Linked DNA regions of Homo sapiens. The protein of the gene in region 2 interacts with the protein of the main gene of each other region in a pairwise test. Each region holds a gene or a part of one and is shown on either strand. Other genes may lie near its edges.

Evidence for each region.
Region 1: the proteins of CMTM6 (region 2) and DUSP10 interact in a two-hybrid assay, tested with the Homo sapiens proteins (one large-scale study listed by BioGRID and IntAct).
Region 3: the proteins of CMTM6 (region 2) and TMED8 interact in binary tests that used the Homo sapiens proteins (3 or more experiments, as listed by UniProt).
Region 4: the proteins of CMTM6 (region 2) and ATP13A2 interact in a two-hybrid assay, tested with the Homo sapiens proteins (one large-scale study listed by BioGRID and IntAct).
Region 5: the proteins of CMTM6 (region 2) and SNRPB2 interact in binary tests that used the Homo sapiens proteins (3 or more experiments, as listed by UniProt).

The regions. Positions count from the first base shown.
Region 1 is NC_000001.11:221,735,414-221,739,157, forward strand, and holds part of DUSP10 (dual specificity protein phosphatase 10), read right to left. Parts: coding exon 3,521-3,744; intron 1,854-3,520; coding exon of another isoform or gene 1,810-1,853; exon of another isoform or gene 1,718-1,809; coding exon of another isoform or gene 1,671-1,717; exon of another isoform or gene 22-1,670; intron 1-21. UniProt on the Homo sapiens protein: Protein phosphatase involved in the inactivation of MAP kinases. Has a specificity for the MAPK11/MAPK12/MAPK13/MAPK14 subfamily. It preferably dephosphorylates p38.
Region 2 is NC_000003.12:32,489,239-32,492,982, forward strand, and holds part of CMTM6 (CKLF-like MARVEL transmembrane domain-containing protein 6), read right to left. Parts: intron 2,649-3,744; coding exon 2,472-2,648; intron 1-2,471. UniProt on the Homo sapiens protein: Master regulator of recycling and plasma membrane expression of PD-L1/CD274, an immune inhibitory ligand critical for immune tolerance to self and antitumor immunity.
Region 3 is NC_000014.9:77,370,408-77,374,151, forward strand, and holds part of TMED8 (protein TMED8), read right to left. Parts: intron 3,503-3,744; exon of another isoform or gene 3,284-3,502; intron 1-3,283.
Region 4 is NC_000001.11:16,994,857-16,998,600, forward strand, and holds part of ATP13A2 (polyamine-transporting ATPase 13A2), read right to left. Parts: intron 2,320-3,744; coding exon 2,164-2,319; intron 1,641-2,163; coding exon 1,530-1,640; intron 1,445-1,529; coding exon 1,398-1,444; intron 1,309-1,397; coding exon 1,120-1,308; intron 1-1,119. UniProt on the Homo sapiens protein: ATPase which acts as a lysosomal polyamine exporter with high affinity for spermine. Also stimulates cellular uptake of polyamines and protects against polyamine toxicity.
Region 5 is NC_000020.11:16,739,782-16,743,064, forward strand, and holds the end of SNRPB2 (U2 small nuclear ribonucleoprotein B''), read left to right. Parts: intron 1-543; coding exon 544-632; intron 633-1,064; coding exon 1,065-1,224; 3' UTR 1,225-2,783; downstream 2,784-3,283. UniProt on the Homo sapiens protein: Involved in pre-mRNA splicing as component of the spliceosome. Associated with sn-RNP U2, where it contributes to the binding of stem loop IV of U2 snRNA.

The DNA.
Region 1 (3,744 bases), on a different chromosome or scaffold from region 2:
AATGGGTACATGACACTCAAGTGTTTACGAGTGAAAATGTTCATAGTATACTATAAAATATTTCCAGCTTTATTGAATTTGAAACATTAATTTACACATTAAACATACTTAAATACATTAAAACATTATCTATATTTTTAAATATTTCAACAGAAAAGAGAAAGCAAATAGGAAAAATATAATTGTTTAATCTGGTTGATAGGTGTATGGATGTTCATTACACACTTTTCTGCTTTTCTATATGCTTGAAAATGTTTATAATAACATTTTTGAAGGCATATACTGTCTTTAAGAAAAAGGGGCAGTAGACTATTTCTTCCTACCTAAGTAAATGACAAATTATTTCCCTGGACCCAGCTTTACTGAAAAGAAAGGGAGCCTGAAAAACTTTATAGCAAAAACGGTAGCTCTCGTTATGGATGGTCTAGAATTGTTCAACTTTCTTACTCAGTTTGACTAGAAAGCAAGTTTTAGTTGATTAAAAATCAGCTTTGAGTAAAACAATATAATTCTTTCAAAGACCTCACAAATCCCTAAATATTTATTCATTTGGATCATTTTCACCAGGTTGAAGAGAAGCACAGGTCTGATGCCATTTATTCTTTAGAAGATGAGACTAAAACATAGATTCTAGCATAGGTCACAACAGGGAGGGCACTGTAAATTAGAACAGTAACTTAATCCCAGGGGCTGCCATGCCTCTGATCGGTTTCTTCCCAACCTGACACAGCATTACTAAAATGGCAAGTTAGCAGCCGCTCTACTTGACAGACAGCACCAAAAATGGAGAGTATGGCATGGAGACAGGGGGACAAGGATCTTGGACAGGGAGGGTAGCAACCAGTGTTTACAAACATAAACCAGAGCATCAGATGGGCCAGCCATAAATTACCCAAGATTGTACTGAAATCTCTGAAAATAAACTAACAAGCCTTTAGAAGTTTCCTCCTTATGTTCTAACTATGCCCCCCTCCCACCAACTTCCCTGCAAAAATTACTCCTTCCGAAATGGTACCACTACCACTCTTGCTGAAACACAATCTTATCACCAAGGGAGGGGATTACTCAAATAAATCTGAGAGGAGAAGCCAGACCAGAATGGTCTGCTTGACCCACTCAAGAATCTGAGAGAAGTCTGCTGGTCATGCCTTTGGGGAATGCCCACCCCGTCTTTCACCACAGTGGTGCTATGGTATTAATCTCTGGTTTACCAAGTTGAAAGGATAACGAAGGGCATTCTAATATTGACCCATTCCTTTCCCTTCTTTTCCATCTTGGTCCCAATTTTAGGCCATTCTCCCAAAAGATACCAAAATGATAATGATAATTATAAAGTAGAATATAGACCCCTTCACTCCTGAACTACATATTTTCAATGAAATTCCCAGATATTTGAAGAAAAGGCCCCCAAAACTACAAATAATCTAACCTCTACCACCAGAGCATCTTCCAAGTCGACTGCCGCGGTGTCTCACCAACTCGAAAATGACGAGGCCTCGCAGTGGCTGCCCAGGGCGCCCAGTGGTGAGGTCAGCAGTGTGTCCTGCCCCGCCCCATTGAGGCAATCTTACTCTGACACTGAGGAAGAAGTCTAGGCTGTCCAGAATCTCAGCTGCATCCACAGGAAAGGGAGAGAGGATCCTCACTTTCACAAGTAGCACCCAGGAGATTCATTTCTCAATGACTGATGGGTCACCCCTATCCACAACTCCACCCACTGCAAAATAGAGAGTAGGGTCTGCAACTCCTTGTAATCATCCCCATGATTAGGAGGTCTAGGATCATCTTGATCCGTGTTGTTTCCTCTCTTCAGATCATGAAGACACAAAAGACTTGCTTTTTATCATGAACACCTGCTCTGCGTGAGAAAAGAGGAGATCATCATGATCATTGGCTATCCTCCTCTTTGCTCCCCAAGACAAACTATTACAAATGGGAAATTCCTCGGTAGGATTTTCTCATTTGTAAGAGGCTAGACACATCAAGATTATGGTAAGACAATAGCAGGGTAAATATCCTGGGAATCACTCAAAGTCAACCATACAAGAATACAGAAACAATAAAATACAGAGCTATATGGAGGAAATCTGAACATATTTGTGACCTCAAGAAAACCCACCACAACCACCACGACCAGGAAATGTCTAGAAGCTTCTGGAACTCTCTACATACAATTCTTTCATGTTCTCCTTCCCAGCAAAGCCCACCAGCCCTAAGGAGAGATGTGCCTTTGTGGTAGTGTAGCCCCATGAGGGCAAGTTTGAGGAGAGCGGAGGGTGGGAAGAGGAGATTGTGTCAGTGGAATTCAGAACTATAATTCCCAGAACACTGCTTAACAAAAGGCAGAATGCCCCACTGGGAAGACAAGAAGGAGAATGGCAAAGCTGTCCCATAGAGACAAAATAACTAACTTGCTCACCCACATGTCCTATTGCAATTTAAATATGCAATGTGTTCAAACTCAGCAACACCTTTGGTCAACACACTTTAGGAGACTGGTTGGAGATGTGACCCAGAAACTGCGTACCTTGGCTCAGAACACAAGAGGAGAGAAGAGAGAAGACGACTATCTCTCACTACCACCACCAGGTAAAAGATGCCGAATGAGAGTGATGTACAGTGCCCCAAAAGTCAGTATCTGAGGGCAAAGAGGTGCAACTAGGCTGGGCACAGGATGCAGGCTACTTGGAAAGGTTAGGCAACACGGTATGGAAGGTGCTCCGAGAAGAGTGGTGAATAATTCCTTCTGCCAGAGCTCAGTTCTGCTAATCTCAGTTATTCTGCATTCAGTATACTGGGGCAAGTGACCCATTACTCCATCTTGGGAGGAGCCATGATGCCAACCGTTGTCAGGTGAGGCCAGAAAAAACAATGGGTTGGGGAGTGTTTCATAAAAACGTCTCTGTTCCCTTGGAGCCTTGGCAGAGGAATGGATGTAATTGGTGAACTTATACTTTATATGGGGCCTTAGAATAAGAAGCTCTGCCCTTCTTCAAGGTCACTTTATAAACCACATAAAAGTCAAGCTGGTCAGAAAGGTGAGAAAGAGAAAGAATTTCCCACAGTAAGAACTGGTACCTGTAGGTTTACTTGTAGTTCACCATAGTTGCTCCTTCCTCTGTTCCATCAACATTGGTTAAGTCTGAGAGACAATAACTTTCCAACTAGTGATTGATTGGAATAGAGCTAGCAGACCAGGCATGACTTGAGATACCATCTGGTGTGTATAAAGCCCCTTTTTAGAAAGATGAGAAAACAGTCCCAGAGAGGTGAAATGACTTGCACAATGCAAATTAGAACCCAAATGAAGGGTAGAACCCAGATCTTCTGGCTTCCAGTTCAGTGCTGCTGGGTTTTTCTTACTAAACCAAAACAATAAAGAGCATAGAAGGGAAGAGAAGAATAAAGTCTATTTTGGTCTTTGGTAGCCAGGGTAAGGAGAATGCTGTCACTCTACGAGAAAACCCAAAGTGAACCCGGCTAATCAGGACCGTGCTTGGGAAGGGAGCAGGGGCATTACCTTTCAACACCAGAGGTTCTTTGCCTTCTCTCTTCAGGGACTCGAGGACTATGTGAAGTGGCTGGGAGGGCATCACTCGGCTTGGTTCATTGGTATTCTCATCATAAACTATAATTTCTTTGGAAAAGATCCTCTTGAAAGAGTCCTTGCCTTCCCTACAGGAAATCAAGTCTAGGACAGTGATCTTGCCCTGCTGCAGTCTCCGCCGGCTGATCTTATCGGCA
Region 2 (3,744 bases):
CAGCCTGGGCGACAGAGCGAGACTCCATCTCAAAAAAAAAAAAAAAAAAAATCAATAAAACTATTTAACACAGAATTCCTAAATTGTCAATCATTCACTTAACATTTATATAAAATGTAAGAGGTTTTCTTGCCGGGCACGGTGGTTCACACCTGTAATCCCAGCACTTTGGGAGGCCAAGACAGGTGGATCACCTGAGGTCAGGAGTTCAAGAACACCATGGCCAACATGGTGAAACCCTATCTCTATTAAAAATACAAAAATTAGCTGGGTGTGGTGGCAGGCACCTGTAATCCCAGCTACTTGGGAGGCTGAGGCAGGAGAATCACTTAAACCCAGGAAGCACAAGGTTGCAGTGAGCCGAGATCGTGCCATTGCACTCCAGCCTGGGTGACAAGAACGAAACTCTGTCTCAAAAAAGAAAAAAAAAAAAAGAGGTTTTCTCTGCTTCTAAAAGGTGTTTCCCTGTAGTACTTTATTTTTTAATCCTTTTGATTATTTCAAATTTATTACATATAAATATAAAATTCTATTTACTAATATTTGGAATACATTCAAGTTAATTGAAACAAGACAATCATTTTTAGACCATAATGTAGTGTTCAATAAACGGGTTCTAGAGCCAGTCTACCTGAGTTCAAATCTGAGCTATACCACTAATAAATGTAAACGTCCCAAAAATGTTGGCTACTGTTGTTCTTAATAGACTCCGACTGCAATAGCATGGGATAGAAGACATTCTCTCTTAAAAAATATTATTCCTTTGGGAGGCCGAGGTGGGCGGATCACCTGAGGTCAGGAGTTTGAGACCAGCCTGGCCAATATGGCGAAACCCCATCTCTACTAAAAGTACAAAAATTTGCTGGGTGTGGTGGCACACGCCTGTAATCCCAGCTATTCGGGAGGCTGAAGCAGGAGAATCGTTTGAACCCGGGAGGTGGAAGATGCAGTGAGCTGCTATTGCGCCACTGCACTCCAGCCTGGGTAACACAGCAAGACTTCTCAAAAAAAAAAAAAAAGTTATTCTTCTTTAGGCACCACCAGTACCACACACTCAAAACACATTCCTCTAAAACAGAAAACCTCTCTTGCATGAAAAAATATTTAAAACCTAAGTGTATTAATATGCAGACAGTAAAAAGTGATTTTGAAACCCTGCAAACAAACATGAAATCCTTATATTAGGTAAAAAGTAGAATATATGTTCTATGATTACAAATATTTTAAATTTTAAAACTATGAATGGAATAAAAAGACTTGAAAGGAATACAGCAAAATAATACAAAAGCTATTTTAGGATGGACTAATTTTTCTTTTTTCTCAGTATTTTTAAACCAGTATTTACTCTAAAATGACTTTTTAAATGCTCAAGTTTGATATAATAAAGGTTTTACTTTTTTTACGTTACACCATTATACTACACTGGACAATATTATAATACCATTTCTTGTCAAAATGATCAGTGTGCTTTAAACACTACAGATGCAGCATTAAAATAAAAACTAAACATTTCTAAAAATATTTTTATGGTGATATTGTTTCACTGTTAAGAAATGACAAAATGATTTCAATCTGTAATTTTTTTAATATAAATTTTTCCAGCCAGAATTTGGAATATATACATTTTTTTTTACACATTCAAACTATAAATCAACCAGCTCAGACACTTGAGAACTTTTCCCTAGTCCAAATCTTATGGCATATTAATCTGTAAAAAAGAAAAATGTCCAAAGACTACAAATATAATTAACAAAAATTCTAAGGATTATCTGTATCCTCTTAATATATATTTCATAAAACAAATGAGTCCTGTTGTCATTGTCATAGAAATTCCTATAGTGATGGCATTAGCCATGACAGCACCTCAAGATGGTAGGGCATTGGTTCTAACAGGATTCTGCTCCTAGCAAACTAACACAGGAACAAATGCATTCTTAATTCACTTATAGACAACTTTTCATAATACCATTAAAGCAAAATATAGGAAGAATTACATGTTGTTTTATTTTCCCCAATCACTGAAGCTTTAAGCTTTAAATGTTGTTTTATTTTAAAGCTCCAGAAATATTTCACATTAGTTCATTACTCTATCTCCAATGTCTAGCATATAAATGCCTGGCATATAATAAAGGCACACAATTAATAATTGTAGAACCAATGAGTGACACTCAAAAGTGAGAAATCAGAAGTGACAAAATCCTAGGCTTTTTTAAGTCTAATGTGAATTACATTAAACCACCAATAACTGTAAACTATTGGCAGTGTCTGTCACTCTCATTCTAATCTCACTTTCCCTCTCTACCATCCCCTTGGTAGGAAAAAATGAGGTGCTTAGAAGCAGAGCGAGTTGGAACAAGGGATACTGTCTTTTCATGTTGCTGAGTTTTGAAAACATTACTGCTTTGAACAATAAAATTATGCCAGATTACAAAACAGCTATTAATACAGGGATGATATTTTCTCATGCTTACCGATGATTTTACTTTTGTGGTATCAACTCTCTCATAAAATGGAGTGCAATACACAATCAGTATAAGGAGACTCAGAAGAAAGGCACTGCAGCTTACAAACTCAAAAAAATAAAGTCCTCCACATAAAGTACATTGTGATACAACTTCTTCACAGATGAAGGCCAGCAGAGACAGCAACTACAAATGAAGCAAAACATTTTACTTAAGTGTTTTTTCAGAGAATCTACAGTATTTAGAAAGCTGTTTCTGAATAATACGTTTACTCAAATATTTACAATGAGGAGACTATGGCAAACAAGATTAATGAATAAACCTTATCTACACAGAACTTACAGTTTGGCCGCCTTGAAGGAAATACAGGTAAATAAAGAATTAATTAACCTATCGTGTACTAATGCCAGCAAAGGGGAAATATATAATATTGTTATAAAAGCACACAGGAGAGACGCTCAACTGCGGGGTCAGGAAAGGCTTCCTGAAGGAGAAAGCTGAGACCTGAAGAACAGAGTCAGTTTGGGGGATGAAAGATTAAGGAAAGAAATTCCCAGCAGAGAAGCAGTATATAGAAAGGCCAGAAATGAGGGAGCATGGCACCTGCCCTCTGACCCAACATACAGACAACACACACCCCGACCTCCAACTTAACTGTCAAAGTGAGTCAAATCAACATGGCTTAAGTATAGAGTTTAAGGGAAGAGAATGGCAGCACAAAAATTAGTATATGAGGCTAGAGAGGTAAGCTGAGGCCAGATCTAAATGTCCTCGTTAATTAAGAGTCTGGATTTTAAAGTAAAGGTTGACAATGATCAGGTGTATGCTTTCAGTAGTTCTCACTGGCTACAATATGGAGAAGGGACCAGAGGTAAGGCAAACCTTGGGGCGGACATCCAACTGGGAAGCTGATGTAGGAAATCAGGGCAAATAATAGCGACTAGGGAGCAGCAATAGAGAAGAGTGGCAATCACTGAGAGATGCAGCAGAAGCTCTTATCAGACAAGATGCAAAAGCTCATATCAGACAAGATGCATACAAATAATATGGAACACAAGATAACACATGTGTACCTTAAACATTTTAACTTAAAAACGCACATTTATTAACAATCTGCTGAAGTGAGTATTTTCTTTATGGGTCTACTGACGAATTCCACATGTTTTCTGCATTAATCACTTTCATCATCTATGGACTACTACTTCCAGACTGATGTTATCTGAAGTGAAGTGAGATCTTAAACACTTGAGAAACAGAGTTCAGAATCTTTCTAGAGTCAGAC
Region 3 (3,744 bases), on a different chromosome or scaffold from region 2:
AATTCACTGAGAGAAAAAGGTCTAGAAAATGTCAGTTCCTGATGAGCAGAAACAGAATACAGACCTATAGAAAGGCTCTTATTTAGGATATAGACATAGTGAAGTCTCATGCCAAGTTTGTGTGTGTGTCTATCTATGTACACATATATTTATATATTTTAAAGACTATTTTTATTAACTATTTCTGAATAATTTATCCACATTATTCAAAATTCAAAAAGCATATAAGTATACAGTGAAAAATTTCCTCCCATGTCAGTCCCTACCTCCAAAAGCAATCAATGTTATTTGGTTTTGTGTAGTCTTCCAAAGATGTTTTATGCATATAAAAAAAAGTGTGTGTGTGTGTGTGTGTGTGTATACTTTTTCACTTTTTTACACAAAAAATGGGCATGCTTAGGCGTGGTGGTGCGTGCCTGTAATCCCAGCTACTTGAGAGGCTGATGCAGGAGAATCGCTTGAACCCGGGAGGCGGAGGTTGCAGTGAGCTAAGATCACGCCATTGCACTCCAGCCTGGGCAACAGTGCGAGACTCTGTCTCAGAAAAAAAAAAAGGTCGGGGGGAGCATGCTGGACATACTACTGTGTACTTTGTTCTTTCCACTTATATCTCAAAGACCTTTCCATAACTGCACATGAAAAGCTTCTTCATTCTTTTCTACAGCTGATTAGTATTTCATTGGGTGAATATTCCATAATGTATTACCATTACAAACAATGCCATAATAACCTTGTATCTATGTCATTAAACAGGAGAATAAATAAATCTATAATTCCTGGAAAGAATGAGTCAAAGGGGCATATATTGTAATTCTGATGGATATTGACAAGTTGCCCTCCACAGAATCTGTACCAATTTACAATCTCATTAGCAAAGCATGAGAGTGTCTGCTTCTGCACACCGACCAACAAAGTGAGTTAGCAAACTACCAAGTGTAGTTAGGATTTCCAATTCCCTTATTATGATTTAGGTTGAGCATTTTTCACATGGTAAGCACCACTTCTCATAGCATTTTAACAACTTAATGTATACTGGAAAAAAATATGCTTTTGATTTTTTTTCTTTCCATCCCATAAGGAGTTGAGCTTTTGATTTTTAACTTTAAAGGAATGCCCTAAATTATTTTTAATTTTAAAGAATGCCCTAAATTACATAAGAACTACTGGTAAAACAACTTATAATTGGATTCAGAGAGGCAGGAAGTAAGAAAAGGAGAAAGAAAAACATAACTTTATTTCCAGAAGTATAAAGTGTGGGAGATGCAGCGCTGTTTCAGTGAGAGAGAATTATGAGCACAGCCTTTTAGGTTTCCTGAAGTTCTTCAGTGAAATTTAAGCCACTATGCAGAAGAAAAAGCCAATTTTCCTATAGTATAGCTTTTATTATATTAGCCAAATATAAGCCAATTCTGAAAGTATTCCTAGAAGAGATCAGAGAAATCAGGCCAGACTTTGCAAATTTAGATGGTATGTGGGGAAATGTTTTTTATTTTTAAAAATATGTATTCTAGTATATATTAAGAAAAATGGATATATCAAACTAGTAATATCGTAGGTATTATTTAGAATGAAACTTTTAAGTGTCAATCAAAATGTCAATTAAATGTCAATGTCAAGAAAAAATAGTAAATAACTAATACTGTAACGGTATTCTCCAGTGTGGCAAAGTCATTACCATGGTTCCTCAGTGGCCGAAATCTCGGAAACAATGAACGGAGGAGGAAAAATGGAAGCTTAACAATAACTTAATTTATCATTGATGGCCACTAAAGCAAAGGTGAGAGAGAAAAAAGGAACTTCCTTAAAATAACTTATTTTATATTTGACAACTTTTTAAATGTGCATTTTCTTTCTACATTACCAAAGGGTCTGGTTTCAGACATTCTGATCATGCTAGGGATTCAAACTTACTGTGTACTTCGTACTTTCCCTACAAGGAGAACCAAAAAGCAGGTTTTTTTCAAAAGCATTTGAATATCAGGTCAGGGTTCTTTAGAACAGGCCTCAGAGGATTTCCCCCTCAGTAAACAGGCTGCAAAGAGATAATTAGCCTGTCATTTTAGATTCCAGTGCAGAAGAACTAAAAGCAGGCTATGTGGTTACAGACTCAAGAGGCTTAAACGAAAACAAATTAAGTGAGTTTATGTTCCAACCAAATCTAGTGACCATGTGATCCAATTTCTCTTCAGCCCTTGAGTGGGACATGCTCCTGAGAGGTCACTCAGATTGTGCACCTTTGGTTATACTGTTTAGACTGAATCACGACATGAATAATCAACTATCTGACTAATCGACTATCTGGACACTAAAAACACAACCACTGTAAGAAAAAGAAAGCCACAGGCAGACAAAATGTTAACATTTTGACATAAAACCACAATAGAAAACTAAAAAACATCAAGGCTGTTTGTCATTGACTCCCTATTATTCTTACCATTCAACATGGTAGCCACCAAATTTTGAATTTTAATTCATGCACATTGAAATAGCCACAGATATTATATATATATATATATATATATATATATATATATATATATATATATTTTTTTTTTTTTTTTTTTTTTTTTTTTTTTGAGACAGCGTCTCCCTCTGTCGCCCAGGCTGGAGTGCAGTGGTGCAATCTCGGCTCACTGCAACCTCTGCCTCCTGGGTTCAAGTGATTCTCCTGCCTCAGCCTCCTGAGTAGCTGGGACAGATATGAAATATTTTCATCACTGCAAAAAGACTTATTGTAATATTCTAACTTCTACCTTAGAACCATGAACAAGTTTACCTGACCTGTTTCCATCCTCAACATCTAAATGTATTGATAGCTCTGGGGGACATACACACCAAACTAAGTTCTACTGCTGACTTCAGGATCACAATAGAGTTTTATTTTCCTTTAAACTTAAAAAAAAAACAAAAACAAAAACAAAAAAACCTGCCTTTAAGTGATGCAACAAGTATGCCTCAGATAGTTTCATAATTAAAGAATGATTTATCTCTCCTCTGGGGAACTGAAGAACCCAGGTGCCTCAAATAAAAGACTATTAAAAACAATTACAATGCATAAAACAATAAGAACACCATGACCACTGGAGAGCTTAGTTCATAAGAACATAAATCCTTTCCTTCCTTTTCACCAAAACCTCAGCTAACAAACATGAAGACACTCAATAGGTATTCTCTGCAGAGAACACTTTTAAAAAACAAGTTATGGTTATTCTGGATAATGACACATTCCTGCTTTGAAGGAATAAGATACACCAAAAAACCAAAACCCTTAACTCAACAATACCTGATATGGCTTGGATGTTTGTTCCCTCCAAATCTCACGCTGAAATGTGATTTCCAATGTTAGAGGTGAGGTCTGGTGGGAGGTGACTGGATCGTGGAGATGAATCCCTCATGAATGATTTGGCATCATCCTCTTGATGATAAGTGAGTTCTCACTCAGTTAGTTCACCTGAGATATGGTTGTTTAAAAGAGTCTGGGACCTCCTCCCGTCTCTCTCTCTCTCACTCCCAACTCTCGCCATGTGACATACCTGCTCCCCCTTTCAGTATGATTCTAAGCTTCTTGAGGCCCTCACCAGAAACAGATACCAACACCACACTTCCTGTACACCCTGCAATACCATGAGCCAATTAAAACTCTTTTCTTATAAATTACTCAGTCTCAGGTATTCCAAATGGACTAACAGAACACCTGAATATCCAATTCCATTTCTTACTGCTGTTTTCTCTCTGAAAGGGTGA
Region 4 (3,744 bases), on a different chromosome or scaffold from region 2:
TTTCACCATATTGGCCAGGCTGGTCTTGAACTCCTGACCTCATGATCCACCCGCCTCGGCCTCCCGAAGTGCCGGGATTCCAGGCATGAGCCACTGCGCTGGGCCCCCTCCCCAGTTTAAAAGCGCTCTGTGGCCCCCGACAGCCTCTGAATGTCACCTAGCCTCTGTCAACCAGGCCACTGCCTACCCGGCCCTGTCCTGCTCCACCACTCCCTGTGCTCAGGTACGCAGCACATCTGTGCCACGCCACTCCCTGTGCCCCAGGCACACGGTACATCTGTGCTATGACACTCCCACCTTTTACCCTTGCTTCTCCTCGACCTGCCCCTCACTGAGGTCACTGAGGGACCTGCTCAGGGGGCTTCCTTGACTGCCTTCTCTCTAAGGAAGTGTCCCCATCTAGAACCCATCAAGCTATCCCACTGGCTTCCTTCCTAAAACCCACTGCCCACTCCTCAGCCCCAGCAGCTCCTTTGTGCACTCCTGGATCACTTACTTTGGTGGGGGACACACACACTCCAGTGACCACAAGGATGCCTGTGTTGGTCACTGCTGGGCCCCAAGGGTTGGGAGCAGCACGGGATGCACACTAGGGCCCCAGGTCCCCACCAGTAATTTTTTTTTTTTTTTGAGTTTTGCTCTGTCACCCAGGCTGGAGTACAATGGCATGATCTTGGCTCACTGCAACCTCTGCGATTCTCCTGCCTCAGCCTCCCGAGTAGCTGGGATTACAAGCATGTGCCATCATGCCTGGCTAACTTTTGTATTTTTAGTAGACGGGGTTTTGCCATGTTGGTCAGGCTGGTCTTGAACTCCTGACCTCAAGTGATGTATCTGCCTCAGCCTCCCAAAGTGCTGGGATTACAGACGTGAGCCACCGCGCCCGGCCCCCCACCAGTTCTTGAACACATGAATACATGATTCTAGACATTTCATCTGCCAGACCGTGAGCCCAGTGAGGGCAGGAGTGGGATGGGGTGGATCCTCTGGGGGTTTCCATCCCTAGACAGGACCTGGCATCCTGTGGGTGCTGCTGAGAGAATAACGCGGGTGTGGAGGCCTCACTGGGGCGCCTGTGGCTGTCCCGCTCCCCTGCACCAACCCCACCTGCGGCCCCACCTTGTCGAAACACACCAGCTGCAGCTTGCCCCCCAGGTTGATGCGCAGTGGGTGGATGCAGAAAATGCCCTGTCTCCGCAGTCGGCTCTGGGCGTAGAGCGTGCACACAGTCATGGCAGCAGGCAGGGCAGGTGGCACCACCACGGTCACCAGGTCGAGAGCCCGGATTACAATCTCATTCAGAGGCACCTGGCAGGGGGCACCATGAATGTGAGCACCTGGCTGGTTGGCCCCTGGGCCCTGCTGGCAGCACCCCCCACCCCACCCCCAAGGCTTACCCGGTTTCGGTAGAGGATGAAGATGCTGTAGATGGTGCCGAGGAGAGCTGTGGGGACAGCGAAGGACTGAGTGGGATTTGGGACCCAGGTGGGGGGGGCTATGGGCAGAGGAGGGTGCAGGGGGCCACTCACCCAGGACAGAGAGGGCAGCCACAAACTTCATGCTGTGTTTATAGAACTTGAAGTTGATGGGCCGGGGGTGCAAGATGGAGCTCACCAGGCCCCCTTTTGCCGTGCAGAACCCTGGGGAGGAGGCGGGGACCCCAAGGCAGGGAAGCCAGGGTGAGGGCAGGCCTTCCCCACCCCTAGCCCTCCCGACCCGTGCCTCTGGAGTTGCAAGACATGATGTTTGTGAAATTAGCCATCAGCAGTGTGGAGTCCTAACAGGTCTGGCCCGGCTCTTGTAGGCTTTTTAAGGGCTTTAAACAAGGAACTAGTGGATAGCATCTAAACACTGGGTGGTTCCACTGAAAATCCAGACACAGGGAAGGCTCCTGCCTGCCCGCTACATCCCTGCCCGCTCCAGCACTGTAACCCCGGCGGCTCCTCCAGATCTTGCAATGCTTGGCCTTAGTCTGGCCCAACTTCTGCTAAGATGGGAATGCTCAGACCCCAGATGGGGGGCAACTGGCCCGAGGTCCCACAGCAGGGCAGCAGCAGAGGTGGGCGTGGGGTCCAGGGTTCCAGGTCCCACCCTGCCTCACTCCACCTCTCCCAAGGGTGCTGAGCCCGGGATCTCTCTCAAGCCCAGCCTCCCGGCTCATACCTGTGCGGGTCACCACTGCCAGGACGTGCGGTCCCACATAGGCCCGGGCCTGCAAGATGAGGGTCCCGCAGAAGAGTGTGTGCCGCCGGTGTGTCTCTGCACAGTAGGGCCCCAGCCCCTCCGGCAGTGCCGTCTTCAGCACTGGAATGCTCTCTCCTGGTGGGGAACGTGGTGTGAGGACCACTCCACACCCCTCCCTCCCACCAGCAAACCAGGAGTTCTGTGTAGAATTGTCCCACAAGCTCTAAGTCTCAGTTAACTCTGTAACCAGGTGTGAACAAGAAATCACAGCCCCATTTTACAGAGAGGAACACTGAGGCTCAGAGAGGACGGAGATATAAAGGCACAGGGAGACACTCCTGGAAGCAGGTGGCAGCCAGCTCCCTGGAACCAGCGGGGGGGGGTGGGTCAGACAGAGCATGTGTGGGCATCATGTGTGCAGTGGGGCAGGGTGGGGGAGTCGTTCTCTTTCTGCTGGAATTATTTTATAACATGCATGGAGTGCTTTTCTAACTCCAACCAACAGAAATATTTACAAGGGGCCAGATGCGGTGGCTCACGCCTGTAATCCCAACACTTTGGGAGGCTGAGGTGGGCAGATCACTTGAGGCCAGGAGTTCGGGACCAGGCTGGCCAACATGGTGAAACCCTGTCTCTACTAAAATACAAAAATTAGCCGGGTGTTGTGGTGGGCATCTGTAATCCCAGCTACTTGGGAGGCTAAGGCAGGGTAATAACTTGAACCAGAGAGGCGGAGGTTGCAGTGAGCCGAGATCGTGCCACTGCACTCCAGCCTGGACAACAGAGTGAAACTCTGTCTCAAAAGAGGAGGGGAGGGGAGGGGATGGGGTAAGGAAGGGGAGGGGGAAGGAGGAGGGGGAGGGGAGAGAAATATTTACATGGAGGGGGCAAATATTTCCATGAGTTGGAGTGAGAAAAGCACTGCATGCTCGCCATGGCCCTGTGAAGTCCTGGGCAGGCTGCCTAGCAAACAGTGGCACTCCCTTACTGAATGCCTGCAGGCTGGGACTATTGAGCACCTACTGTGTGCACATTCCTGCAAGGGAGTCAGACAATCCTGCCATGTCTGCCTCACAAGAGATGAGCAGATGAAGTATGTGTGGACAGTTTGTGGAGGGCAGGGCTCAGGGCGTGTGCCCACAAATCATACTGATCACAATTACTACTTTTTTTTTGTTTTCTGAGACGGAGTCTTACTCTGTCACCCAGGCTGGAGTGCAGTGGTGCGATCTCGGCTCACTGCAACCTCCACCTCCTAGGCTCAAACGATCCTCCCACCTCAGCCTCCCAAGTACCTGGGACGATAGACGTGCACCACTACACCTGGCTAATTTTTTGTATTTTTGGTAGAGATGGGGTTTCAACATGATTTCCAGGCTGTTTTCGAACTCCTCACCTCAGGCAATCCACCCACCTCTGCCTGCCAAAGTGTTGGGATTACAGGTGCGAGCCACTGCGCCTGGCCTACGATTTGTGATACAAATACAATGCCAGCCAGAAAACTTCCCTGGAAAAAAACCACTATCCTGTGGTTTTTAGTAAACTCTCTCCAGTATCTAC
Region 5 (3,283 bases), on a different chromosome or scaffold from region 2:
TAAGTGTTTGTTACTGCTTGTTTGTATGTAACTAGATGCTGTGTATATCTCATTTATTTGCCAAAAATAAGTAAATTAAAAGTCCCTAAGCAGTGGTTCTCGGTGGTAATCTTTCTAGTTCCAATTTTTTTTTTTTTTTTTAGTATGCTGGGAAGTAGTAACAGTACAGAGGAATTGAGTATCTGAGTGATACTGAGTGTGGTAACCAGCTACGGAGGGGTGACATTGCTGGCCATCTCTAATTTTATTAAGATCTTTGATTATGTTATCCAGGTGACAAAATTCTCCAATCACGACTCACCTCCAGAAGCTTAAAACATAATTGTTTCATATACTGTTAAACACTTAAGAGATTTGTAATTTTCCAGACTTTCAGTGTCTTTACTTGAATGTCTGCCTTGCTTAGTTACTGTAAGGTTTTGATTTATTTCTCCAGTGTCATTGTTTTTCAGCTTTATTGTTTGATATAGTAAGATTTCACATGCCTAGCTTACGATGCTGTTTAAACTTACAAGCTAACTTTGCCTTTTTACTTTTTAATAGGTCCCTGATTACCCTCCAAACTATATTTTATTCCTTAATAACTTACCAGAAGAGACTAATGAGATGATGTTATCCATGCTGTTTAATCAGTAAGTTTTTTCATAAATAAGTCTGTTTCTGAGAGCTTCCTCACAGGACAAGTAGTACTTCCGTGGGTTGAATCCATTTATCACACAGCAGTAATTCCTTACAGGTTCATTGATTTGGTTTGGGATGAATCATGAATTGGAGCCAATTTGCCGATTTAGCAAATACAAAGCTAAATTTCCTCTAATGTTTGAATTCTTAACTCTGATTGATGTAATAACAAAGCTTTGATATAATATAAAATAGAATTAGTTTATTCTTGCAGTTCTTCCATGGTATTAATTACACATGAGGCTCTTCCGTCTACTCAGTATTCTTGGTTAGAGTATGGTTATTTTTCTTGGACTAGTATTAGGAAGTTGCTTAACAAATTTTAACACAAAGCAAACATTTATGTACTTGCTGTATACATGAATTGTTTTTCTTCTTTATAGGTTCCCTGGCTTCAAGGAAGTACGTCTGGTACCAGGGAGGCATGACATTGCTTTTGTTGAATTTGAAAATGATGGGCAGGCTGGAGCTGCCAGGGATGCTTTACAGGGATTTAAGATCACACCGTCCCATGCTATGAAGATCACCTATGCCAAGAAATAACATTTGGGATAGTCGTCTTTAAAAGACTTGGTGTTATTTACAGTGTTTGTTTTGATAACATTTGGCTGGGTCATTTTAATAGTTAGAGATGAGGAGGAGTAAAAGTGAAATTTTTGTGAAGGACTTAAATTATCCAGTGTTTCTTTAGCCTTGGTGAACTATGAAATACGAAGGCCTTAATTTTGTACAATAAACTTTTATTTGTATTCTGTGTATATAATGCTTTCTTGATTGACCCATCTCCCTATCATCAAATGACTTCTAGTCTAGAACACACTTAAGGTTTATAAACTTGTGTAATAGGATGCTTTTCTAGTGTTACTTTGGAGGAGCTAATTATACAACATCATTGAACCATTCAATAAAAGTTAAGTAAAATTAGATCACAGAAGCTAGTAGATGACTGTTGTATTAATGGTAACAATGATTGTTCTGGGTATTAGAAGAAAATGAGACCCAGGCAGGATCTAAATTTGATCTTTGTATCCTTTTAAGAAATGAATATATTATTTTGCTGCTAGTAGGGATTCCACAAGTTTTCTTCATTCAGTATTAAATAAAGGCTGTTCTTACTGTTTACTGAGAAAACAGAAAGGGAATGCTATCTTCACACTTTGCATTTAATGCTGTTTCCTTCATGAGGCAGGACTGTTCTAAGGTTAATATGCAATCTCTTTATTGAAAGACCTCCAGGGTAAAAATTTTTTGATCTATAGTCTCTTTTCCCCCTTAAGACAAATAGACTGATTAATAAAGAGTTGCCAGTGCTAAGCTTGCTACTTCTTTGTAATTCTTAAACACCAATGTTCAAATATTTCCAAAGCCCATTTTCTTTAGCTTTTGATTTATGTTTAAGGCTATTGATTCAGTCCTCTGCTGAGTAAACCATGGGTATCTCCAGAAGTGGACAATTTGTTTTTACAAGTATGGTACATATTAATAGTAACAACAACAAAAAAGAAAACAGTACTTATTTTTCTGGTGTTCCTGTTTTAGTATTCCTTGAACAAAACCTTTATCACTTGGAATTTTTATTGTCTACTTATGGAAAGACTTTTAGACTTACGTAGACAGTATCACATCACTCTTATGCATACATAAAGAGGAAAAAAATGTTTCCTATAACTTTGTCACAGTTAGTCTGACTCTTCTGAATAACTTTTTTAATCCCAGTAGTCAAGCTCCTGTACTTTTGTAAAATATATTAACAGTGAATTACTAGAAAATGGGCCATGTTCTTGTATATTACAGTGATGTCAATTGCTGATAAATTTTCTAACTGCTTACTCTCGGATACCGTACTTGTCTAAGAACTGAAAATAATTCACAGACTGATCCCATGCCCAGTCCTGGCCATGCTTTGAGTGGCTGTATTGGAGCAGAAAAGCCAGGGTGGCTCACCTGGGGTGAGAATGAGGGGGGTGAATAGTAAGAGGGGTCGTGTAGGTCTTCTTCAGGATTTGCTTATACTCTGAGTGAAATGGGGGACTATTTTAGAGAATTTTTTTAAAGTGGGTTAGAATTTACGTACAATAAAGTTCACCCATGTTAGTGTTCCATTTGATGAGTTTGGGCAATTGTATATAGTCATGTAATAATCAGTACAGAGCATTCCATCACCCCCAAAATTTCCCTTGTACGCCTTTGCAGTCAATCTATTCCCCTCTACCCTTGGCCGTAGTCAACTACTGATCTGCTTTCTGTCCCAACAGTTTCGCCCTGTCTGGAATGCTTTGGAAATGTATCTGCTGTTGCCTATATCAGCAGTTCCACCAATGAATGGGCATTTGCGTTCTCCAATTTGAGGCTATTAAGAAAGTGGCTATGAAAATTTACATACAAGTCTGGGCATATGTTCTATTAGATTTCAAGCAGAAGAGTGATAGTTTGATACAATTTCTAATTTACATAAAAGTTGCAGAAATGGTACACAGAACTTTCATAACACTTCAAATTAATCATTAATGTTTCTAGGCTTCTGGGCTATTTGAGGTTGTGATTACATTGACCTGATACCCCATTATTCCATGATACTTCAATGTGTGTTCTTAAGTACAAG